5 separate regions of the Homo sapiens genome follow, and regions 2, 3, 4 and 5 are each linked to region 1. Evidence: fine-mapped expression QTL. A gene starts in region 1. Each other region holds a variant in brackets. All regions are shown on one strand. Distances are between the middles of the regions. Region 1 holds the start of NUDT12 (nudix hydrolase 12). Region 2 has its middle 140 kb from the start of LINC02115. Region 3 has its middle 99 kb from the start of LINC02115. Region 4 holds the start of LINC02115 (long intergenic non-protein coding RNA 2115). Region 5 has its middle 19 kb from the start of LINC02115.

The links.
Region 2: its variant is fine-mapped to the expression of NUDT12 in whole blood (INTERVAL, PIP above 0.99).
Region 3: its variant is fine-mapped to the expression of NUDT12 in whole blood (INTERVAL, PIP 0.95).
Region 4: its variant is fine-mapped to the expression of NUDT12 in whole blood (TOPMed, PIP above 0.99). The same link has a PIP of 0.9 or more in monocytes.
Region 5: its variant is fine-mapped to the expression of NUDT12 in whole blood (TOPMed, PIP 0.97).

Annotation. Positions count from the first base shown.
Region 1 is chr5:103,560,214-103,565,323 of GRCh38, reverse strand. It overlaps NUDT12 (nudix hydrolase 12), which reads left to right and starts at 2,535. Exons shown (of 7, transcript NM_031438.4): 1 at 2,535-2,621; 2 at 5,070-5,110. The coding sequence starts at 5,076. RefSeq lists enhancers at 2,232-2,762, 2,763-3,295.
Region 2 is chr5:103,400,474-103,405,583 of GRCh38, reverse strand. No RefSeq gene overlaps it. Among named protein-coding and RNA genes, the nearest start is that of LINC02115, 140 kb to the left of the region's middle. The variant G/T (reference allele first, on the strand shown) is at 2,852.
Region 3 is chr5:103,440,498-103,445,607 of GRCh38, reverse strand. It overlaps the pseudogene PDZPH1P. Among named protein-coding and RNA genes, the nearest start is that of LINC02115, 99 kb to the left of the region's middle. RefSeq lists a silencer at 2,410-2,628. The variant C/T (reference allele first, on the strand shown) is at 2,054.
Region 4 is chr5:103,538,632-103,543,741 of GRCh38, reverse strand. It overlaps LINC02115 (long intergenic non-protein coding RNA 2115), which reads left to right and starts at 1,757. Exons shown (of 5, transcript NR_104670.1): 1 at 1,757-1,888; 2 at 2,711-2,799. The variant A/G (reference allele first, on the strand shown) is at 2,426.
Region 5 is chr5:103,520,784-103,525,893 of GRCh38, reverse strand. It overlaps the pseudogene PDZPH1P. Among named protein-coding and RNA genes, the nearest start is that of LINC02115, 19 kb to the left of the region's middle. The variant A/T (reference allele first, on the strand shown) is at 2,246.

The DNA.
Region 1 (5,110 bases):
GAACACGTTGTTGGAAAAGTGGCACCTATATACTTGCTTGCCACAAGGTTGTCATAAACCTTCAATTTGTAAAAAATGTACTATCTGTGAAGTACAGTAAAGCAAAGTGCAATAAAACAAGGCACGTTTGTATACTTACCTGAAGGATATTAGGGAACTAACTAATTATTCTGAAGATTAGGAAATAATGGTGAAAATCGCACATTTATCCTATCTTTCCATATAAGCTGTATAGATATTTAATTAGATGAAGTTCTTTATTATAAAATAATTTGTTAGTAAATGTAGAGTGAATATCAAATTAGAATATCACTATTTGCAACTCATAACAAAATGATGGATGCAGGCAATAATCATGAATGGCTGCTAAAACTATTAGCTGAAAAGTTGATGGAAAAATTTATAATATATTTATCATAAATTTAATATTTAAATAATATAATTATATTTATCATAATTATATATCAATGTCATATATTTATCATAAACATTTACCATATTTTTATAATATTTATATTATTATTTATCATACATGTTATCAGGTTGACAACATCTGAACCCAATGATCAAGTATAACATTAAAAAAAGAGAGACAACCAGAAGTTGTAAGCCTCTTGAAGTAATTCAATACAAAGTAAACTGTAACACCTATAAAGTCTTTTGTGAAAAAAAATCAAACTTTAATCTGAGTAATTCTATAAAGTTAACTACCAGTTTGCAAGAAATACAGGGGGAAAGGACAGCACAGGAATAAAATCTGCAAAATTCAGAATGTGGAAAATTCTACAGAACAAATGATCATTACTCTTTAGTAAATAAACTGCCAGAAAAAAAGGGGAAGAGGAAGGAATCCATAGATTTTTAAAAATCAAATGTGATGTGGAGACTTTGTTCAGATGAATCAACTGAAAAACATATAAAACTTCTGAGGCAAGTGAGTAAATTTGATATTGAATGTTTCTTTTATGTTATTACAGAATTATTGTTAAATTTGTAATACTAGGGATATTGAAGTTGTGTTGTTTTTCAAAGCCCTTATATTTTAGATATAATACATATTTCCAAAAAGTTTACTCTTAAATATTTGTCATCAAAACAATATGGGGTCTGGAATTTACTTCAAAACAATCCTAACAACTGGGAGAACTATATATTAATAGTTGTTGACTCTGGATCATTAATACACGAGGGTTCACTATACTAATCTAACATATGTTTGAATGCAAAGATTGGGTACTCCAAGTGAAGTAACTAATCCTTTCTGACCACCTGTCTGGTCACTGAAATCATTAAAGGCTGAAAACAACTAGTCACATAAAGAAGCATAGGGCGGCCGGGTGCAGTGGCTCGCGCCTGTAATCCCAGCACTTTGGGAGGCCAAGGCGGATGGATCACCTGAGGTCAGGAGTTCCAGACCAGCCTGGCCAACATGGCAAAAACCTGTCTCTACTAAAAATACAAAAATTAGCTGGGCCTGGTGGCGCACACCTGTAATCCCAGCTACTCGGGAGACTGAGGCAGGAGAATCACTTGAAACCCCGGGAGGCGGAGGTTGCAGTGAGCCAAGATCGCACTACTGCACTCCAGCCTGGGTGACAGAGTGAGAACCCATCTAAAAAAAAGAAAAAAAAAAAAAAAACAGCAGCACAGGGCGTTAGAAGCCCTCATGATCAATGTCAACTGGTGCATACAGCTTCACAGTGAGAAGGAGCTTCCAAGGGTAAAATCTGGGTGGGAAACAGTGATCAATTGTAAGAGACCCCTGTAGCTGTTGCTGATTACCAAGGAGAGAGTTTAGTAAAGGAAAAAGCCCTGGTCTGGAAGTTAGAAGACCGCCAACACCTAGTTTTGTAATCTCGGACTCATAACTTCTGTAGGTTTTGGAGCATAAAAGCACAGGAACTGAAATAAAAAATAACGACAATAATTTTGTTGTGGGTGCCCACTCTGCACTTCACAACATCCTAAGAGCTTTGGATACATTATCCTATTTACACCTCACAACCCAAGGAGGTGTTTTGCGCGCTTGATACATACTTTTTAAAGGACTACTGAATAAGTTAGGCGTCAGTATATGATACCAGTTTTCCCATGGGGTGAATGATTAAGGTGTTACAGAGGCCGAATATCTCGTTTAAGAGTGACTTGGTCTAGTCAATAGTCCAGGATTATTTAACAGGAAAGAATGCTTTGAGCACTCAATTGCATTGGACTGTATTGGAGAGAGGGCTAGGAGTTGGGTGGGAGACGCTGGAAAATTTAAAATCGTTTCCTTAGGCCTACAGTTTTCCGATCGCCTGCACCACGTTCTATCTACACATCACAGTCTCAGGAGAAGGATTTTCAGCCCTTCATTCAGCTCCAATCCTTTAGACCGCGATCTCTCCCGCGCCGGCTCCCAAACACTTCCACCCCCAATCTCCACCCCTTCTCCCTTGCGCACAACCTGTGGGCTTCAAACTACATCTCCCATAAAACCGCGGGGGCCCCCCTCCCGCCCCCCCCCCACCCCCGGATCTCCACCGGAAGTCGGGAAGACTGCATCCGGCTCCAGGAAAAGCGAGTGGGATATCCCAATCTTTGGACTGCATCCTGGTTGCCTCTACTGTGGTCACCTTTGGGTTAGTAGAAGCAGTGGGGAGTTAGTCGTCTCATTGCCTCCTCTGGGGGCGGTGACCACTTCCCTGGGCTCTTTGGTTCCCGCGCTGCCCTGCGTGGCCCTGCTGAGTTGTGTGGCGGAGCCTCGTAGTGGTTTGGTGGGCGCAGGCGCGGGAGCCACGGACGCATTTGCAGGGGCTCCCGCGACAGGGCGGAGGTGCGGCGGTACTGAGGTCGTAGAGTTTCCTGCCCAAGCTGAGATGGGGAAAAGGAAGCGCTACTTAGGGTGTGATTTCACCTCGAAAGAAGGAATCTCACAGTAGTGGCAAGAAAGTAAAATATCTTAAGGCATTTTACCATTTTCAGAGACCGTGCACGGGTGGCACTTAATTGGTCTTGAGTGCCCAGGGAGTGGATGAAATTCGTTAATTGATGGTCAGTGATTTCAGTGACAGAGCGATATTTAAGGTCCTGTCCTGTCCCATTCGGTCTGTGTGAGCATGCGGAAGTCATGGGCCCCGGGTTACATGTCAGTAAAAGTGGATGTTGGTTTGTTAAAAATTTATGTCCCTTTACATCTAATATTCTTTTAAATGATTTCTCGGAATAGTCCTTGAGCTTCTTGGAAAACAAGGGCAGCACTTTATTCTGCCTTCAAATCTTTACCTTCTATAACCTGTCAATGAGAATTGAAAAAGTAAATCAAACAGTAGAATTGGGTGTTAGACTTTATGTGCTTCTCTGGAATGAATAATGGTACTATTTCTAGATGGCTTTTCTGCTGAGAAAGCTAGAGGGAAAAGTGTACACTTTCCACTTCCCATCTCCACAGAATAGCATATGCATAAGCATTGCCCTGGAGGTAGTGAATGACGCTGTATTTTTGAAGGACAATTTTGCAGTTACCTGGCGCGGCCTGTGAGAATGTGAGGGAGTGACGGTGACCCCAGAACATGAGACAGTGAAATATTATTCAAACTAAACCTAGCTGAAAAAACTATAATATGGGTTTTTGGAAAATAAACTTAAGAGAAAGACAATTTGGAAGGGAGATCAGTACAGGAGCTGTACAGCAGTGCTTCAAAATAAAGTCCTGAAAATTTGTAGCTTTTGTTATGCATAGTATTTTTAACGTATGTAGAAATTTCAATATGAAAGGAACAGCGAAGTAAATTCTAGAATAAATCAAAAATTATTCTGTCATGTAGATATTACTTCTGGTAATTTAATTTCTAAACAGATTTCCACTGTTAGGTTTCATCCAAGTGTTTCCATGACTGTGAGCAGTTTTAACCTATTTATAAGTAGCAGAAAGACACAAATAGGAAAGGTGAACAGCTCCAAAATGAGACAATTAATCTTTACTCCTTGTTTTCCCTAAATTTTGTTCATACTATTCCTGCTATGCAATTCATCAGCCAGATCGCCCTTTCAGAACCCAGGAGACAGCAGCTATCAAAAACTATGGGCTATAACCTTTCTGTCTTTTTAGCTTAAAAATCTTATTGCTTAGAATGATAGAAATGTTGTTAGAATCCCAAATCTTTTCTTAATAGCATTTCATAGAAAGAAGAATTATACCTTAAAAAAAAATACTTTGAGAAGTTCACAGACAGTTGAATCATGAACCATTTTCACCATCCCCCGCCGCCAAAAAAAAAAAAAGACAAAAAAAGCTCAGTGTGTGCTCTATCATCTGCAGTCCATGATTAGGCAATATTTAAGAGGTATGGAACAATTATTTCAGGGTTTACCCCACCGAAACAAAAAGGTGACAAAGCAGATAAAGTTAATGAGTTTTAAAAGCTGCTCTGATTCAAGGACAACAAAGTGACCAACAGAACTGTCCAATAATAGAACCAAAAATATATGATCATCTGATTTGTGACAATATTTGTCTCAGTGTAGTAGGACAAAGATGGTAATTTCAAGAATAATACGGAGTAATATGGATTATGCATTGGGTAAAAAAGTATCTTGACCCCTACCTCATGCCATGAACAAAAATAGATCCTAGATGGATTACAGAATTAATTGTGCAAGGTCAAACAATAAACTGTTTTCCTGTGAAACTTATAAAGTCTCTGCCTTTACTTCCATCTGTTTTAATGCTCTCCCCCTCATGTCCCCACCCATCGTGAAGTCCCCTCTGGTCTACCCTAAATACCTCCTCCTTATGTAATATGTTACCTGGTTCCCCCTCCCAAGGATATGGCCCCCTCGTCTGTACTGTCAGAGCTCTTTATTCATTATTTTGTGTAACTCCCATGGGCATATAAATTGCGTTGCATTTTATAATTCTAAACTGATAACATTTTGAAATTGAAATGTATGCTGTTTAAGGATTGCCTGTTGAATAGTATGTTGCCTTGGAAACCATTGCTATTATTCTATTGCTATTTATCAATATTGTTCATTGATAAAAAAGCAGTTGCAAATAAGCTTTTTCCCCTGATTTTCCTTCTTTTAAGGAAGAAATGTCTTCTGTAAAAAGAAGTCTGAAGCAAGAAAT
Region 2 (5,110 bases), 160 kb after region 1:
AATTAAAAAGCACAATTTCAGATGGCAGAGAAATCCAAGTAAAGTAGTAACCAGAATAAAACTGTAATTTAAACTGAGGCTATTACATAGCTTATTAGAAATCCACCTATATATGGTAACAAGGAAAACACTCAACCCTAAGGTCCCCCCCAGAATAGAAACTAAAATTATGTAGAAAGTTATTCTAAGAAAATACTTGCTAGAAGTGGGATTACATTTTTGGCTGGGTATGGTGGCTCATGCCTGTAATCCTAGCACTCTGGGAGGCCAAGGCAGGCAGATCATGTGAGGTCAGGAATTCCAGACCAGCTTGACCAACATGGTGAATCCCCGTCTCTACTAAAAACATAAAATTTAGCTGGGCATGGTGACACGCACCTGTAGTCCCAGCTACCTGGAAGACTGAGGTGGGAGAATGAATCACTTGAACTTGTGAGACGGAGGTTGCAGTGAGCCAAGATCACGGCACCACTGCACTCCAGTCTCAGCAACAGGACCAGACCCTATCTTTAAAAAAAAAAAAAAAATGGAGTTACATTTTTAATATTAGGAAAAAAAGCTTTAAGATTGTTTAAAAGTATTACAGGGAAAAGGAGGGGCATTTGAAAATGATAAAAGGAATTCACTGTAAATGCTGAACCTGTAAGCACCTAATGAGACAGCTTGAAAATACATAAACAAAAACATGAGAAAAAAATGTTCAAGAGAAATAAAATAATCATAATGAGAGAATTTTATACAACTCTCTCAGAAAGTGAGAAATCAAATGTATAAAAAATTTGAAGACAGAAGATTTAAATATCACAATAGATTTATATAATATCCAGTACTATTAGAGAACATCTATTCTTTCTAACTAGACGTGGAAAATTTACAAAAACTAATCAAATAAAACACAACTCAGCAAAACTTAACAAACACCAAACACTGACATAATACAGACCTCATTCTCTGAGCAAAATAAAATTAAATTAGAAATCAGCAAAAAATAACCCCCAAATTCCATGCATTTGAAAATCTTAAAAGTTTTAAATATGTTATTCAAATATTAAAGCACAATGAAAATTTGAAAAAAAAATTGGAGTTGAATGGCAACTTTTAAAATACGATATATCAGAATTAGATACAGCTGGTGTCATACTTCAGAAGAATTCACAATCTTAAATTCACATATAGAGAGGGTAGAGGGATTGAAAATAATGAGTTAAGCATTCAACTCAAGAAGTCAGTATAAAATTTAAAAAGTAAACCCAAATGAAGTAAAAGTATATAACAGAGAAAAGAGGCTAAATAGGTGGTATGAAGTGGGTATTTTAGACAGGATGTTGAGAAATAGCTTCTCTAAGGAGATGACATTTGGACAGAAACTTGCAAGAAGGAAAAATTTAAGATATTTATAACATATCTTTGATAATCAATTATATGCACATTTGCCTTCTGCTGTGCCATAGAAGGGGACAGAAAATTTTCTTGCCAGCCTGCCATTCATAGCAGGTGCATATATATAGAGTGGAAAAATCATCTCCTGGCTCATGCATCCTCCCTAAGGGATAAAGTCATAGATGCTGTAAGTGTTAGGAGAATAGATCCCTGAAGGAAAGGATGATGACAGAGTGTGTGAAGGGATTTCTTGTCCTGAAAACTGGAGAAGCCCTCAGTTCTGTCACCCAGTTCACAGTGAGAATAAGCATCTGCATCTTGTGTCCCAGTCCATACAACACTGCATAAGAGGAGAGGAGGGTCATCCTGGCCTCTTCACAGCAAGTGGGACTGCCCTCACAGGTGCAACACCACAGGCCACTAAGAGGCTTGTGCTCCCAGCTCAAAGGTAACTTTTACTTATCCCCTTTGCCTTTCATACCCATTGATCATCCCATCCAGATTAGGTTGATTACTCACATTCTCCCAACAGATGATCCTCCCCCTAACTCCTCACAGTCACATCATTGTCACCAATGCAGGTCATCCACCATCACCCAGCCTTTTATGCCCCACAGTGCTCTAGCTCCACTAATGGGCTCCAACATTTCACACCTGCCAGCGTTCAGAAAATCCACCCATGCCCTACCTATCACATCACCCTGCTTCTCTATTAACAGATAGCCATTTATCAATCTGATCATTTTCTTGTTTATATAGTTTTATGTCTCTTCCCTGCCTCTACCATGGGAATATAATCTCCATGAGAGCAGGGATGTTCTCAATCTTGTTAACTACCATATGTTCAGGTCTCAGCAGTGCCTACCAGGTTGTGGGAACTCAATAAATATTTTTGAATAGTTGAACTGAGTAATGAATGAATTTCTCCCGATATGCCCAGGAAATCTTCTCTCCACATGAAGGTAAGAAGAAAGATCATTAACACGAATGTCCATTCTATAGTACGATCCTGCCATTTTAGAGTGTGTAAGTGACTGTAGAAATACTGTTGTACAGCTCCCTCATGTCCATCTTTCCCTGTCGCATGAGAATTATGTGCCTGCTATGCTGGCCCCATGCCCAGATTCAAAGGATTATATATTACATCGATTTTAGCTGGGGCAAGATGCCAGCCAAGGACCATTTGGGAAGAATTTCCCACAGTAGGCAGAAAGTGACACCTCAGATGCAAGCTTAAGCTGCTCTCAGCAGCAAGTGATGCTAAACAGTCTCCATTTGTGACTGCACTGTGGGAGAGTACACCTGGGCATTCTGGAACATGACATCAGCAGCCAAAACAGCTTTTTATTTAAACTCCAATGCAGGCAAACTTAGGAAATCCACTCACACAGCAAGAAACTTCTTGGACCTTGTTAGTAGCTGACAGTTTGCAGCCCCTAATTACTCCACGCCTCCTTAAAGGGTTCTCTCT[G/T]GCATTTGCTTACTTCAAAGTTGCCAAAAAGTTTAACAATCAGCAACACTCAGGTCACTTTATTCACAGAGGTGAGCTTTTGGTTTTTCAGCAAAGGTGTATGTAGAGCCAAAAAAATAAAATGGTAATCGAGAAAAAATGGCCATAGAATGGAAATGTTATCTTAACCAACAATTACCCAGCCAAATATTCAAACTATGGCAAAAAACTAATTCTAATACTTAATGAGTTATTTGGCAGAAATTGCTAAAGGCTGAATTTTAATAGGTAAAGCTATCAGAGTTCCAACCAATCCAGCTAACTTTTATTCAACAGCGTAAGACCAGTCATAAGAGGCTTAATGGTAATACCTGACCTAGCTTTTCCATCACCTTACATTTTGCTTCTTCCAGAAAGAAGAACCTGCTCTGACTCTTCCAAGACCAAATGTCCATGATATATTTTTAATGGAAATTGACTCTTGCTACTTTTTATTGAGGAACTCATTTGTTTCCTCAATAACATATAAGCCCCTTAAATATGAGGATCATATCTTGCTTTTCCATTATGTTCCTAGGGCTTAGCACATTTCCTGGGATAGAATGGGTGCTAAATAAGTGCATTTGGTTGAATGGATGGATGGATAAAAGGAGTAGTAAATGAATCAGAGTAAGCAAGATAGCAGCAAGAGGAAAAACCAAACTGTTTTCCCTCTACTCACACACCACTTAACAAAACACTTCTGACATCAGATGTGTGGAAGTATTTCCACGTACACCAACTAAGCAATTCTTCAGCAGACACCAGTAGGTTGTCCTCTAATTCAATCTGATTACGACACTACCTACTTAGAGATAGCATCAGATCCCACAGGTTATGGCCTCAGTCCTACAAGGCTGCCTCCACTTCAGATGCCAGTCACAAGTCCCAGGTTGTGACCTATGATGGGCTATAAATCCAGGATTCCCATAACCCTTTCCTGGATTAGACTAATTTGCTAGAGTGGCTCAGAGAACTCAGGGAAATACTTTATTCATACTTAGTTTATTAATAAAGAATATAATAAAAACCCAGGTTAACAGCCAGATGAGAAGATACATAGGGCAAGATCTTGAAGGATCCTGAGTGTGGAAGCTTCTGTCCCCACTGAGTGAGGTGCAGCACCTTCCTGGCACTCAGAAGTGTTCACTAACCTGGAAGCTCTCTGAATACCATAGTTCAGGAATCTTTATAGCAGTTTAATCACATAGGCATGATGGGTTATCAACCATTTCCAGCCCTTCTCTCTTCTCCAGAGAATAGGGGTGGGGCTGAAATCTCCAAACTTATAGTAATGGCTTCGCCTTTCTCATGAGAAGCTTCCATCTAGGAGCGCACCAAGAGTCTCTGCATTAGAGCAAAAGATGCTCCTATAACTCAGGAAATTCTGAGCTCTGTGTCAGTAACCAGAGCAGAGATTAAATATTAGAACAAAAGATACTTCTAGCACCCTTACTGCTTAGGAAACTCTAAGGGTTTTAGGAGCTCTGTGCCAGGAACTGGGGGCAGAGACCAAGATATATTTCCTATTATTTCATTGACAGACACCTCAAGTACCTTGTATCACAAACCACCTCTGATTTTAGGACAGCTGTGGTATATAATATATGAAAGCTTAGATGAAACCATCTCTCCTCACCCCACCTCAAACATAATCTGTGTTTTTCTGCTTAGAGCCTCTCTGATACTGCAGGAGCCTATTTTGTCTGCTTGGGTATAGTCCACAAGTGCAGGGGAGTTACCTTCTCAGAGAAATCCTCAGCCAAGAAGGGGCAAGGGCTAGTGGATGGATGCCCCAGCTTCCTGCCTGTCTTCCAGGCAAACAAATCTCAGGAGCATTCTGAGCATCAATCCCAGCAGAATTGAGCCCCTACTGTCTACAGCAATGCCCTTGATACCACAACCTTAGGCTGGCTTTCACTCTTCTCATTCCTGCATGCTACTTCCTGGGATTATCTCCCAAACAAACTGCCTGCACCCAGGTCCTTGTCTCAGACTTTACTTTCATGGAAACCCAATGTGTCATAATATGAGACTGTCAAGTTGAGAAGAATGTCCAAGGACCTAAATGATGTAAGACATGACAGGCTCAGGAAACGTACATGAGAACATATTGTATCACATATTCCACCACTGAATAAAATAACAAAGGGGCAAGCACTGAACATAGTGCTAGATCATAGCAAATGCTAAAGCAGTCCCTCTTTTTTGGTTAATTTCAATCCTTCCTGCATTGCTTCC
Region 3 (5,110 bases), 120 kb after region 1:
ATGCCATCCTTCTCAGTAAGACTCAGTGGGGAGTCACAAACTGGGGTGGAATTTCTGTTTCACATGAAGAAGTCCAGTAGTTCCCCATGGATGACAAACCACTGCTGCTGTTTTCTTTTTACTCTCCAAATATAAGATCTCAGGGATATCTCAGGATGGTGCTATTGATTGAGCAGCTTACTAGAAAATGAGTGTGTTATAATTCAGAAATACAGTGCTTTATGTTAGCATCCTTGTTCTGTAGACATATAAGGCCAATTTTCACAATTCCTGCCCATTCATGATTCCAAGCTTTGGAGCAAGATGGTTTTTAATTTAAATTTCACCTACAAACTGATAGATAACTTTATAACATCAACAGGCGAGTCATCACCTCAATGTCTAAGGCATTTGATATTTCTCTTTCTGAACTTGTTCTACAAACTGTTAGGGGAAAAATTGCTTTAATACCAATTGTTTCATTTTTATGATATAGATATGATTTCTAATGAGATTATAGATTTCCTTTAAATATGCTCATTTCCTCACAAAATGGTATACAAGCAAAAGTAATTATCAATTGTCTTCTCTACATATTTTGGCTCTGTGCCTTTGGGAAAATTTGGATTGTTTGAGCTTAAATGTACTGCCAGGTACCCTGTAACTGTCCTTTCAGAACAATAACAAGCATCATCATTGACAAACAACAGGACTTGTGTTTCATTTTACCTGGAACACAACGTTGAGCACACACATTCATCTCTCCAATGTGTCATCCTAATGAGCCTCAATATTTTTAAGAGGCATTTATTCTGCTAATGCACTCAGAGTCTGAAGCAAAGTGGAAAAAATGAACACCCAAACTCCCAGCAGGCTCCCATTTCGCAGCAAAGAACACAGCAAACTCTGCCTTCTGAAATCATTTGCCCTGCCATGTTAAAACTAAAGAGCAAAAATGAAACCAAACAAAGAAGAGGAACTGGCAAGTACAGGCAGGGCATTCTGATAAAGAGATAAAGCACAGTGCTCCCAGCCTCAGGTCACAGTTCCCAGAGTTCCCTCCCAGTTCCCAGGCCTGTGGAGGAAGGGCTGCCCTCCAGAGAAGAGAATTTTAATTTATCTTTGGCCTTCATGTCACTGACTGTGAAAGCCTAAGACCTGAGTTGGCCTGGGGCATTTAACTAGTTCCATTGCACAAAGGAGAGTTACAGGTAAGGAAAAGCACGAACCAAGGATTGCTATTCGTCACAGTGGACATACCAGGAACAGGGCTAGGAAGACAATCCCAATGGTGAGTGAGGTAACATCTTCCCAGACATGTTACCTAACTTATCAGGCTCAGCGCTTATAGACAGGGGCATTAAAAACAGTCTTTGCTAAGGTGCTTGTTTCCATTGCCTTTCTATACATGATTCCCTGTTCTTTGACTGATATACTTTTGATTTCCTCAGAATAAAATAGAAGCCAAAAAGAAGGGATGTCTATGGACACGAGAAGGAAAAAGAGTACTTCCCTATAGACAATGGATAAGTTTAGGTTTTCTGGCTAGTTGCTCGGGTATTCAGATTGTCTTAGCAAGAACCACGTAGGGCAGTGGCTTCCCTAGTGTCAGACAGACTTGGTCTGGGAGTTGAAGACTTTTGGCACAGGATGACCACTCAGCTGACCCTTTTATGTTACACCTGCAGAGCCATGTCTGGGAAGATGTTACTCTGCACAACAGTAGCCTCCCACCTCTGGCTATCAAGAACCCAGGGTGTCTGGGTCTTCTGCACCAGCTGGATATAAACACGGACATGTGGGTCCTGCACTATTGCATCTTGAAAGGATGGTTGGCTTGTATTTCTATGATAACAATCGCTCTACCCAAGCCTCAGGTATGGACTCAAATTTCACTTGAAATAATAGTAATTACAATAATAATAGTAGCAACATATTAGTTTTATTGATCTTCTACCTGGCCCTGTGCCATGTGCTTTACCTAAATTCTTCCATCAGTCCTCCAGAGAAGAGGTATTATTACTGTTCCCATTTTACAAATTAGAATGGGAAAGTGGCTGCAAAGTGTACATAA[C/T]TTGACAAGATCACATGTAGTAAGTAATGAAGGTGGGATCTGAAGACAGCCAGGCTAACTCCAATGTACCCTTCACCTCACATTCTATTGCCTGGAAAAGTGAAAAGTAAATTCCTTTATTCTTTTTGTCATTGATGCATTCAGAGTCAATACCAATAGTTTTCTTAGGTAGTGACTTCTCTCTTTTCTCATAATGCCTAAGTCATTGTTATTGTGTAATTTATAAAGAGAAGAGGTTTATTTAGCTCACAGTTCTGCAGGCTGTACAAGAAGCATGGTGCCAGCATTTGTTTCTGGTCAGGGCCTCAGACTGCTTCCACTCATGGTGGAAAGGGAAAGCAAGTCAGCATATGCAAAGATCACACGGCAAGAGAGAAAGTGAGAGAACAGGGAGGTGCTAGGCTCTTTTAACAACCAACTCTTGCAGGAACTAACAGAGCAAAACTCACTCATTAACACGAAAACGGCACCAAGCCATTCATGAGGGATCTTCTCACATGACCCAAGCACTTCTCATTAGGCCCTTTCTCCAACACTGGGGATCTTTCCAGTTTGGAGGGGTCAAATATCCAACCATAGCATTCCACCCCTGACATCCCATAATTCATGTTCTTCTCATATTGCAAAATACGATCATCCCTTGCCACCCCCGTGACCCAAATACCTCCCATTAGCCCCGCTCCTCCAACATTGGGATCAAATTTCAACATGAGGTTTAAAGTGGTCAAATATTCAAATTATAGCACATAGTAGTCCTAATTTGGACAAGTGAGTAACAACAACAACAAAAAAACACATATTAACTATTTTCTTTGGGCAAATTGCTTAACTTCCTAAAACTTAGTTTCCTCATTAATAAAATGGGAATAACAGCTATCAATCTTCCACAAAACTGTTGTGAAGATCAAATGAGTCATTGCTATTAAAGTGATTTAAGAAAGCTCTATACAAAGTTTTCTTACATATATTATTAGATATATTTTATGTTTTACTGTATGTATTTTATTATGTATTATACTTATTAAATTATATATAATAGTTTAAAGTTATATGTACAAATGATCATACAAATAATATAATTTAATAAAATAATTGCACCTGATTTCCACAAAATAAATTACTTAACTTTCTTATAATTTTTGACAAAATATATCATTGGTGTTCTATTTGCAGTTAAATTTTTCCCATATGAATAATCTTTAAATAATTAGCAGTAATTAGCAATTGTGAACATCCTGGAATCTCAGTCATTTAATTTCTTCTTTTAGGATTAATGCTTATGTTTAGATAGGTAGACATGCCAAATTGGAAGGAGGCATCCAGTGACCATTTTGACCTTGGAAGTGTACAAGAGGTACAAAGTGAGCAACACACCATGGCCCGTTTTTCATCACTCAAGATGAACAATGAAATGAGTCTTCTCCACCCTCCCTTCCATTTTAAAACATGACCCTAACATCATTCCACTATGAAGAGATAGTCTTTCTAAGCCCTTACAAAACAGGCTGTTTCTATTCAACCCCAAATTCTTAGTTTTAAACAGCTGATAGCAGGATGGGAATTAAGGTAAACAAAACAATTAAACCTCCAAAGTAGTCACTGACTGGGACTTTTAGTATAAAATATCACTATAAACGTCTGAACTCCTTTAATTACCAAATCAATTAAGCTAATTTTCAAGGGACTGTTTTCATAGACAGAAAGAAAATGCTTGGGATCGAATCCACAGATTACTCCAAATTCAGAACTGTTAGCAAAGTGCTTTTAAACCCCTGGGGCCCAGAGACTGCCACTGATTACAAGAGGTTAAAAATAGTAATGACAGCCACTAGGTGGCTTTTCTTATCCCAAAAGGTCAGAGGCCCTACTTGAACAGAAAAGTCCTAATTAAAGAGCTGCAAAAACTGGTCTATTAAATAGCTTAAATATAATAACAGCAAAAGCAGCAGCTGTCATTCAGTGAGAGCAGCTCTTGTACTAGGCACTCTGTTGAGTGCTTTTACTTATTATTTCATTTAATTTCTACAACAACCCTATAAGGTAGGTTATAGGTTATTATCCCACCTACAGGTTTAGAAACTGATGCTTAGCAAGGTTAAATAATTTGCCTAAGTTCTCCTAAATAGTAAATGGTGAAGACAGAATTTGAACCCAGGTAGCCTAACTTATCAATAAAAAGAAAAAAATTGATGAAGAAGAAGAAAATGAAATTCCTGTTTATATTCAGCTCTTATCGTTGCATAACTCTTTCTAGAGATGTCTATCATTCTTTGTTGCCTCTAGAGCACGCCAGGGCCTTATATTTTGTCCAGAAGCTCCTGTTTCTGGCCTTATCTTCCGCTGTTTCTGCTAAAGTACCCTACATTCCACCCAAACAGGGCTGCATTCTATTTCTTTACCACACCCCACCTTGTTAATATTTTTCTGACCCAATGATTTTATTTGTGCTAGTTCCCTCCCCTGAACTGTCTCCTACCTACTGATCACCCAATATAAATTGTCCAGATTCTAGCTGTCCTTCAAACATCTATTCAAGGGCTGTCCATCTCTACTATTAAGCAATCTCAGATGGTCCTAGATAAATAAACCTTCTCTCTTTTCTGAACTTAACTGTCGTTTGACAATTATCATCCTTTACCTTGTGTTTTATTTTCTAATGGTTATCTTTTCTAAGGTATTATATGCTCCAAAAATGACACATTATGTGTACTTAATGAAAGAATATTCAAATTAACTTAACTGACCATGATTGCTATGAATTGTGAGTAATTTGTCATCCCCTCATTTAATAATGGAGATTAGGAAATTGAAAAGCCAGTTCAAAGGCAAAACTAGAACTCAGTTCACCACATGCCTGGCCTTTCTTCCATATGACACTCTTTCCAGATATAAACAGTTATCTAATTTCTTCAAGCACCATCCAGAGCTCTAAGGTTATGGTCATCCCACCCCACCACCACTACTGACACTCACCCACCCAGGTGTGGGAATCAATACACAGCATCTGGGGACCTGAAGACAGATGCACCATCCAAAGGACTAAGAATTGGCATGCTG
Region 4 (5,110 bases), 22 kb after region 1:
TTTATATTTAATTGTTTTTATATTAATTACTTAAAACATTTTGATCTGATTTCATGAAAGAAGACATTTAGGACGTTGAAATTTTTTCTATTACAATTGCAGTTACTCTGTGATTTAGAACAATTTCATAGGCAAAATATTCTGGCCAACATCTTTTTGTAAATAATCCCAAATCAAACTGCAAAACAGCCTATTTACAATCTTGCTGTTACTTAATCTTTACATCTGGTTATTTCAAACAAATTGTGCATTTGGAAAGCAAGATTTTTTCAGTGACCACTTACTATGATTTTTATGGAAATTAATACTTGCTATGAAAGACTCTTTTCACCATTAAGAATTCAGCCAGCTCCTTTTACCTTCTCCGTGCTCACTCAGAATTTAAATATTAGATATTTTTAAATCTCCTTTTCCTCTCGGATAATTTAAATTTTAGCTCGTTTATCTAATGTCAGATTAAAATGATGTTAAATAAGTATTCCTAAATTATATGTTTGGAAAATAAATTGAAAAATAAACCTTTATTATCTATATTTGTTTTAAGATATAATTCTCTTAGTTGCTAGCAACTGACCATTTAATTATATGTAAAGTCATCTAACTTCTTAAATAAATCTGTACTAATCATGTGATGAAATTACAATTAGGATGCTTATAAGATAGTCTTGGTATCTTCTCTCTAGGGGAAAAAAATCATCCACTGACCAAGTTTTCAAAAAGATCTTTAAAATGACACCAGGAATTTCACTGTGTTGTTTCAGATCTTCAACTCTTACTAGATGTGACGACACTTTCGTGGTCCCGGATTATTTTTACAAAAAGTAGAATAAAAATTCTGAATGTTATCTGATTTGTGAAGATGTACACACACTACCCAAAATCCACTGATAACTTATTCTGATCCCATGAGACTGTAGAGACCTCAGTGAATTTGAGATGGAATGGGATGTTAGCACTGATTATCTGCCCAATTTAAAACCAGTCATAAAGTGATTAAATTAACCTGACAGATTAATTCTAAGCATAATTTCTCATTCCCTCATCATTGGCCAGACTGCAGTTTACATACTTTTTTTATGACAGTGGGCAAAAATACAGCACAGTCAGTGACTTAAGCTATATAAAAAGAAGGTCAGCAGGAAATAGTAAGCATAGAACATTTTTAAATAAATGCCTTTTTATTGCTTTCAAAAACATGCATTTGTTTGGATTAAGCTACAGAAATGTATTTACTTAAGTGAATAAGTAAGCATAGAAAATGTTTTAAAATGGTGATTCTAAGATTGGAGATTTCTCCTCTAAATCTTTCGATTAAAGCCCCTTTGAAGCCTTTGTATCTTGTTTGCATTAATATTCTTATCAAATTATTTTTCTGAGGTAACACAGTAATTTCAGAGTAATTCAAGTTACCTTGATTTATGAACAAATAATGAGATTTAGCACTGTCCAAAGTGCCCTAAATATTGCTAACGATAATTGGCTCTTAATAATGGATAACATTGCCACTAAAATATTTTAAAGGTCATATTTATTATTTTCTTCTGAATGACTTGAAGTAGAATGAACATGCAGCCATTTCTTAGGCTACCATGAGCAAAGCACAATTTTGCTTAGGGATAAGATATATTTTGAGTGTTTATTTTAAATATTTACTTGAGATTTTTCTTAATCTTTAGAATTTAGAATGGTGGTTATACATCAGTTTTCCTTGATTCTAGACTGGAAAGGAATGAAGATGTCACAGGGGTTCTGCTTTAAGGAATCCGAAGCTCTGGTGTCAGCAGAATTGATGAGCTCTGCCCCTGGGGAACACCAACACAACTTCATTGAAAGAGTTACAGGGATTTCATGTTTCGGAGGAATTATATACAGAGGTTTCTGTTTGAAGGTATATTCAAATACTACTTCAAACTGAGGTTTAAGGTTGAATATTTCAAAATTAGGAAGACGTCATTGAAACCCAGCAACAGTTGGCGATTCAGCAATTATTAAGTCTTCAGAGAAACATAGCTCTTCTGTAACATGGTTATTGAAGTAGTGTGGCTCCACTTCAATAAGCAAAAAAAGAGACAGCATTCCTCTTTAGAAAACTCAAAGGCATTACTTATTTAATTAATAGGTAAGGAAAGTCTTGAGCAGAAAAAAAGTAGTCCCTGAGATGTATTCAATTAGCCTTTTGTGCCTATTCTTTTGCTAACTTTTACAAGGCATCTAATCATATATTTAAGTACATGTGTGTGCTTTATTTTTTCTTTCTTTATCTTAATGGAACTACACCTTCATAGTAAACTTTTTATTATTTGAAATACTTACATGTGTTAAAATGAAGTTATCACTTCTTATTGTGGACTATAATTAGTCAAAGAGGAATAATGTAAAATGTCACATAGGACTGAGTCAATTTTGAAAATGGGCTTTTCAAGAT[A/G]GATTCTGAAACTCCCTGTGCTGGTCAAGGTCAGCGTAGGGGAAAACCATAATTATAGATTTCTCAGACCTAGCAATTCAAAAAATATAGAGAGTAGCTAAGGTTCTAATTGTAATTGGATAGGGTGATTTCTCTTCATACAGTGATACTTAATTCGTACATCATTCTGCATGTGGGATTAGCTAAACTTCCAGTCTAATAGTCATTCTAAAGCCAGAGAGGAAATGGAGCAAAGCAAAATACAGTTCTTCAGGGATTTCTAGTCTAATAATGTCATTATGATAGCACGCAGAGTATGACTGCATCTTTAAAATCTTCTAAAGCAAGGGACGCACACCACTGCTGGAATGCACAATGGTTTGGAGTGGTGCAAGGTGAGATATTTCCTTTTTATTATTTGTTTTTAATATGTGTTAGATATAACCCAGGATTTCACCTATATTATTGCCGAACATGAAGCTAAAGTAAAAAAAAATGAATAAAAAAACTATTAAGCAAATAACAGCACAGCTATTTTATGAATGTTGTAGAACTCGTGAAGGTAGTATGCAAATGACTGAAATTGGGAACAATAAAGTTGTGTTCATTCATCCAACAAATATTTATTGAATACTGTGTTTCCTCCACACATATGGAATAGGAAGATATCAAAATATAAGATAGTCAAGGTCTTAGCCCTTGTGGATCCCACATTTTGGGTCATACCGCTAGTGGTTCCACAGAAGACTGGAATAACCTAAGGCTGTATACACTGAGGTGTTTTGTATATGTTTGGTGAACCCAGTAATAAAGTTCCTCTGAAGCTCATGTGGCTCAAGTCAACTGTGGAGCGGCCAGGGGTCTGGTTCAATTCCAGAATAAAGAATATGCCCCACAGATGCTGCAGCACTAAGGAGATGAGCAGATATATCCTCCATCATAAATAAGAAGATAAAACTAAATACCTCATTCATCCTGCCAAGTGCCCTCCTTCCAAACACTTCCACTACACTGTTATTCTCCATGTACTTACCAACTGTTTCAGCTCTTACAGTTGTACCCAAACTATAGGAACCCCTTGCCTCTGAGAAGCTGAATGTGAACACAGGAGAGCAAGCAATCAAAAAGACAACATGATTTGTCTTACTCCAACCGCCCTGGCCTGCTAATCTGACTTGCTAGATTTTTATCACAAGTTCCAGTTAGTACAAGATGAAAAAAGGATGTTGGTGAGCTAACATAAGATTGATTTAGAACACAGTTTGGGTACAGCCTCTTCACACTGGGCTGAGAAAAAAATAAAAAGCAATCTATCACTGAATTTTCTTCCTAGAAGCTTGTTGATATAGAAACAGAGAATCTTAAGCCAAAACAATAAAACAAAAAATCCAAGCCTTAGTGTGTGCAGTTGAGAGAGATGAGAAATGAGATAGAATAAAGTGAAACAATTCATAGCAAGTTTCCTCAGGGCAGCCCTAGCCTAAAATCTTAAGGCTTTCAAAGATTTTTTGAATGAAGTTCCATTCTACCTATTCAATTGGATCTGCTTCAGTGGGATTTCTAATCAAAATCGCTTGGTGTGTGTATAAGGGTGTGGGAGAGTGGGCACTCATTAAAATTGCATACACCTGGATCACCAATCAGACTCCAAATCTCTAAAGTGAAGGTCAAAATCTACATTTTCAGCAAGTTGCTCAGTGATTCTCAACCACATTCAAATTTGAGAATTCCTGTGCTAAACAGTAAACTCCTTGAAATGTACATTATATTTACATTTTTACATCAAGTTCAGCTCGGAACTTTAAGCCCACAGTGCACAGTGCCAAATTCAAAGGCTATCTCTGTTGTTAAGTACACTGGATTTTCCCAATTTTAATTTATCATTCCATAATAAAGTGAAAGAGGAAAGGGGCTGTTCATGAAGCATGTCAGGAAGAGCCTCTAAGTTTAACAGAGTAAAACAATGAAAATCTTTCAAAAATCTTAAGAAAATTGTTCGCTTTTCAGAACCTTACCATGGTGGAGAGAGAAAATGAAGCAGCATCTCAGGACCATGATTCTTGGGCAAGTTGCTACATCTCTCCCACTTTTCTCCAATAAGAAATGGGGGATTTGGATAGATGATCTCACACATATCGACAGTCAAACAAAGAACAGACATTTTGGAACTGTTAAGAGATTTTCTGGTATTACTGAATGTATCACACATTATTAGATACTAAGCTCACTTTTCTTTTCATTTACTAATATCAATTTTTTCTTTCCCAATTCTTTAAACTTTAGATATAGTAAATTCTACACTACACAATCCTCTTTTCTGTCTGCATTTCCTCAGAGACTCTGACTTAACGTTTGTAGGGTGGGCCCAGGTGCATTCGCTCATGCCTGTAATCCCAGCACTTTGGGAGGCCGTGGAGGGCAGATCGCTTGAGGTCAGGGGATTGAGACCAGTCTGGCCAAAATGTTGAAACCCCGTCTCTACTAAAAATACAAAAATTAGCAGGGCATGGTGGCGAGCATCTGCAATACCAGCCACTCTGGAGTCTGAGGCAGGAGGATTGCTTGAACCCAGGAGAAGGAGGTTGCAGTGAGCTGAGATCAGGCCACTGCACTCCAGCCTGGGAGACAAAGCGAGACTCCGTCCCCAAAAAAAAAAAAAAAAAAAAAAAAAATGTTTATAGAATGGGCTTCTTGTCTCTCCAAGGA
Region 5 (5,110 bases), 39 kb after region 1:
TGCAGTTTAATGTAAAAAAAAAAAAAATCAATTTCTCTTTAAAAGGTTGATATATTGCCAAATCAATTTTGTAGGAAATGTTAGTCTTTGCCACTCTTAAATAATCCACCATTTCTTTCCTTCTTGCAAGCTAAGCATGTTCAGAAGAATAGGAAGAATATGTTTGTAATAAAATATATTTTTAAATCTTGCTGTGGTGTTACAGAGGCATTGTATGTATGTCTTGGAAGGCCATGTGGAATAGTAATTACAACAAAGGACAAAAAACAGAAACGACCTTGCCTAATCCTCACTGAGCCACCATGGGGCCTCTGACCTCCAGCAGACCTCTGACCTCCCTTGTGCATTACTTGGACCAAATTGTTGATAGAACCCAGAAGCTCTCCAGACCTCAAGTAGGGCCAAGATGGAAGTTCTTTCCTAAGTACATAATTCTGCCTGTCTGCTTTCAATCTCAAATCAGCACTATATCATTTTTGTCACTTCATAGAAGGCCCTTGTTTTTTTAAATGAGTCCAAATTATTTTATATTTAATGTTAGCATTATTCCATATTGTAAATTAAAATACATTTTGAATGAGTAAAAACTGTCTTCTAAACTGCTGGTAATAATCCTAATAGCTTCAGAAATTATATTTGGAATGATGAAACTTAAAGGAGAAGGTATATTTTCTTTGTAGTTCTGTCTCTAGATTTTTGAATGAAATTAGTAAAATTTAGAAGTAGAAATAAAATACAAAAAGCATAATCAATTACATAACTGTTAGAATAAAATGTGAAATTTGTTTTGTAGAGAGTAAATGCCCTAAAACAGTATGAAAACTCTATGGTCATCTGCTTGATATGAACACCCTAAAGCAAGGACCATCAGTCATGGGGACTGCTTCCTGGTGCCAACATCCATCCAGAAATCAGCATCAATGACATTAATCCCAACACTGACTTCAGTCTATAGTTATTTGGAACTGCAAGGGAACCTGCAGTAAGAACAACTGTGCCTCCCAAAGGAAACACATGCTCACCTGGATGAATATATCTCCCAAGTTGACTCTCCTTCCCCCAGAGGCATGTTCCTCCCTGTCCTACCTCTCCCAGCGGGAAACATTTCTTAAGAAAATCAATAATTCAAGTCAGAATTCTCTCAAAGCTGATATTACACATCAGAGTTTGAAACTGTCCCATTTGGTAAACAATTCCAGCTACTGGTTCCCTGTGTTACTGATTCATCAAAAGGCTATTCCTACAACTCTCTCCCTGTATCCTTTTCCTTGATCACTCTTCCAGCCATATTGACTTACTTCCTAGAACCTTCCAGCCCAGATCCACATCAGGCCCTTTGCATGGACTGCTCCCACTACTTGGACCAGTCTTCCCCTATATGTCTACATGGTTCATTCTCATCTCCTCATCTCCTTTAGATTTTTGCTCACACAGCATGTTCTCAGGAAGGTCTTCTCAGACCACTCCATTTAAAATTGCAAACTGAACCATCTTCATTACAGCCCAGGCAAACGCTATCCTTTTTCCATTTATACATAGCACTTTTTGCCTTCTAATCTGCTATATATTTTACTGGTTTATTTTTGTTTTGTTCTGTCTTCTTTCACTAGAATATAAGTTCCAGGAGGGCATGGATTTTTCCTGTTTTGATCATTGCTATATTCATAAAATTAGATAGTACCTGTCCTGTAGTATAGGTGCTCAAATATTTATTGAATGCAAAAATAAATGCAGGGAAGTCACATCAGATTTCTTTGAATAGTTCACATACCAAAACAAACAACAACAACAACAACAACAAAACCAGGAACATAGTTCAGCAGTTATAATATTAATACAAAATATTTGAATCTATAAATGTTTGCATAGATTTAACTCTCCTAGAACTATGAATATCTTTATACTTTATTCAACATTATTGTCTTCATATTACTGATATCTCAGGCTAGAACTGGGTAATTTTTTCAGGGAGTGTATTGCTTTGAGAAACTGGGATACTTTTGGACTGTTTTTACCAGAAAATTATAAAATTGATATAGGCACAAACTTACACTTACATTTTGAAAAGCGATCCTCTAACCCCTTAACATCCATGCATGTGCCTCAGATTCGGAGTCCCTGACATGAGTGTTCACTGTAATATTTGTGTAGTTCCTTCCACCATGTGTGTGCGTTTAGGAATCAACTAGATTAGACGTCACAATGTGAACTGTCTACAGGGGCCAGGCAGGTGATGTAAATGAGT[A/T]AAGCAGGCTGTATGTGAGCAAGTCTGGAGTGTTGGTGAACTAGCGAGTGTGTCCTAAGGGAAGGAAAACGCAGGTCCAGTACAGACAGGCCTTCTGACTTCCAAATAGCAGGAGACCTGGATTCTTTAATGTATGAGTCTGCAGATCATGAGATTTGGGAGACACAGTACAAAGTAAGCAATCTGTGACCTCTGAACTAGATAAACAAGAGAAGGTGGGTGTGGTATGGGGGGTGTGGCAGGAAGTAACAGCCATCATGTTATAAAGGAAAGATACCAGATACCAGTCAAACCTTTAATAACTAAACACTAAGTTCTTCCTCTGCCAGGTAAGGGCTATACGTTGTTGGGTTAAAAAAGTAGTTGCTCAAGGCTTCATTTATTCAGCTGTTAATGGTGTGAATATATCTTTAAGAGCTCTGCCAAAGAACCAGAAATTCTATATCATAAAAAAATGTAATGAGGAAACCAAAAGTAGGCTAGCCTGAGAAAATTACAGACAATGAGAAGGATTAGATGATATTTTTACATGGCATAGAAATAGCCATAAACAGCCCTTTGTATGTAATATAACACAAAACTTACATACAATGTGTGAAATGTTTTATTTCTCTTAAAATAGGAGTGATTCTAAGAGTTCACATCAAGGCACAAAGTTATAGAGGACTGCAAATCTGAGAAAGTTTGTGGTCCCAGGCTCTGCACCAAGCACTGGGAATAAAAAGATGAATAAAAAATTATTTCATTTCACGTAGCAGAATACAACTGTTGGGATAGTTTCCAGCAAACTGACTTCTGGTGAAATCAGGAGCTTTCAACACCCGTGCCCACTTCAACATTTCTCAGCAGACGCACATTCCAAGATCCCAGTTTCAGCGGCAACGCTCTGCTTTTCTCCAGCAGGGCTCCTCCCAGATCTGCTTCTTTTTTGTGGTCTTCCCATTCATTTCCCAGGCCCTGCTCTGGCTTTCAAGGTGGTAGCTTTCCACTTTCACACTCATGTTTGGTATCTCAGACCATTTGTGCTGTTACAGCAACATACCAGAGACTGGGTAATTTATAAAGAACATAGATTTGTTTTTTACAGTTCTGGAGGCTGAGAAGTCTAAGGTCAAGGTGCCAGTATTAAGTGTCTGGTGAGGTATTAAGCATTTTGCTGCTACCAAGATGGCTCCCTGTTGCTGCGTCCTCACATGGCATACACAGAAGGGCAAAAAGGCCTAATCTAGCCCTTCTAAAGAGTACTAAGCCAATTTATGAGAGCAGAACCCTGAAGACTTAATTATCTCTAAAGGCCCCACCTCTTAATAATATCACATTGGATCTTAGGTTCCAACATATGAATTTTGGGGGACATATACATTCAAACCATAGCAACTGATAAAACATTTGTGCTTTTTAGTGGATTAATATATTGTTGCTACAAAGTGATAAGTGTGCATTTTAACAGAGTCCCTCAAGAGATTTGAATGTCTTCATTTCAGTACAAACAAATTGCCTGACTCCTTGAAAGACTTGATAAATATCTACTGGGTATTCATGGAATAAAGGGGAGGCTCACACGTGAAGGAAGATTACTGAGACATAGATTCAATGCATCACATAAAAACTTTCTATCATATTGTAGTATACAAGGATTAGACTGACTCAATAGGGAATAAATTTGAGTCTGGGAAGTGTTCAAGCATATATTGAATGATTACTTGGTAGAAATTTGGTAGAAATGTTTTGAGCATAGAGAGGTTCGTTAGAACAAATCACCTTCTATATTCTTTGCAAACCTAAGAGTCCACAAATACCAAGCAGGACAGTGGAAGTGGTACTTTGTACTTGGTGGGCATTTCAATCGTTTTCAGATCACATTTTAAAACACACTGTAGAACATATACTTTCCCCTAATTTGAAAAGATCAAAAGTATATGAAAAGATCCTGGAGGAAAAGTCTTCCCACCATATCCCAGGGCCATATTATCATACACAGTTTCCTAGGTCCATAAGATTTCTTTTATACTCCACACTTTCAAAAAAGAATTGCTGTTACACGTAAAGTATTTGATATCAGAAAATTATCCTCCTCATGAATGCCTTCATAGTTAACCTACACTCTCAATCTCAAAAAATAGCGGAACTAGAACAAGCATTGGAGAAATGGCCAGAGATCAGTTCTATATTATTTTTAAAAGTTCCACCACTCTGTAACATTCTAGTGAGCAAAAGCCATCTTGCTCATTGTGACCGCTCCAATAACCAACACGACAGAAATTAGTATGTAGAAAGTGAACACTGAATATTATCGAATGAATGTTGTTTTCCTGTCACCCTCATAAGAGGTAGGAGTCCACCGCAAAGTAATGGAAAATGAATTAGGTAATGATTCTTCTTTCTCCTCACCTGTTTAACCTTAACAAGTGAATTTTATTTTATTCTTTTTTTTAGAAACAGGGTCTCACTCTGTCACACAGGCTGGAGTACACTGGTGTGATCATAGCTCACTGCAGCTTCAAACTCCTGGGCTCAAGCGATTCTCCCACCTCAGCCTCTCGAGTAGCTCAGACAACACGCGCATGCCACCACATCCAGCTATTTTTAAAATTTAGAGATGGGTGTCTTGCTATGTTGCCCAGGCTGTTCTCAAACCTCTGGCTTCAAGCAATCCTCCCTCCTCAGCCTCCCAAAATGCTGGGATTACAGGTGTGAGCCACCTTGCCAGGCCTCTGACAAGTGAAGTTTAAGTTGTTACATAAATGGATCATTAATAATTATATATATATATAAAAATAAAGATGCTTATTTCTTCATAGATATATCCCATTTGTTATTTAAATAGTTCTGAAAATAAATTTTGATATTGATAAATTAGATTTT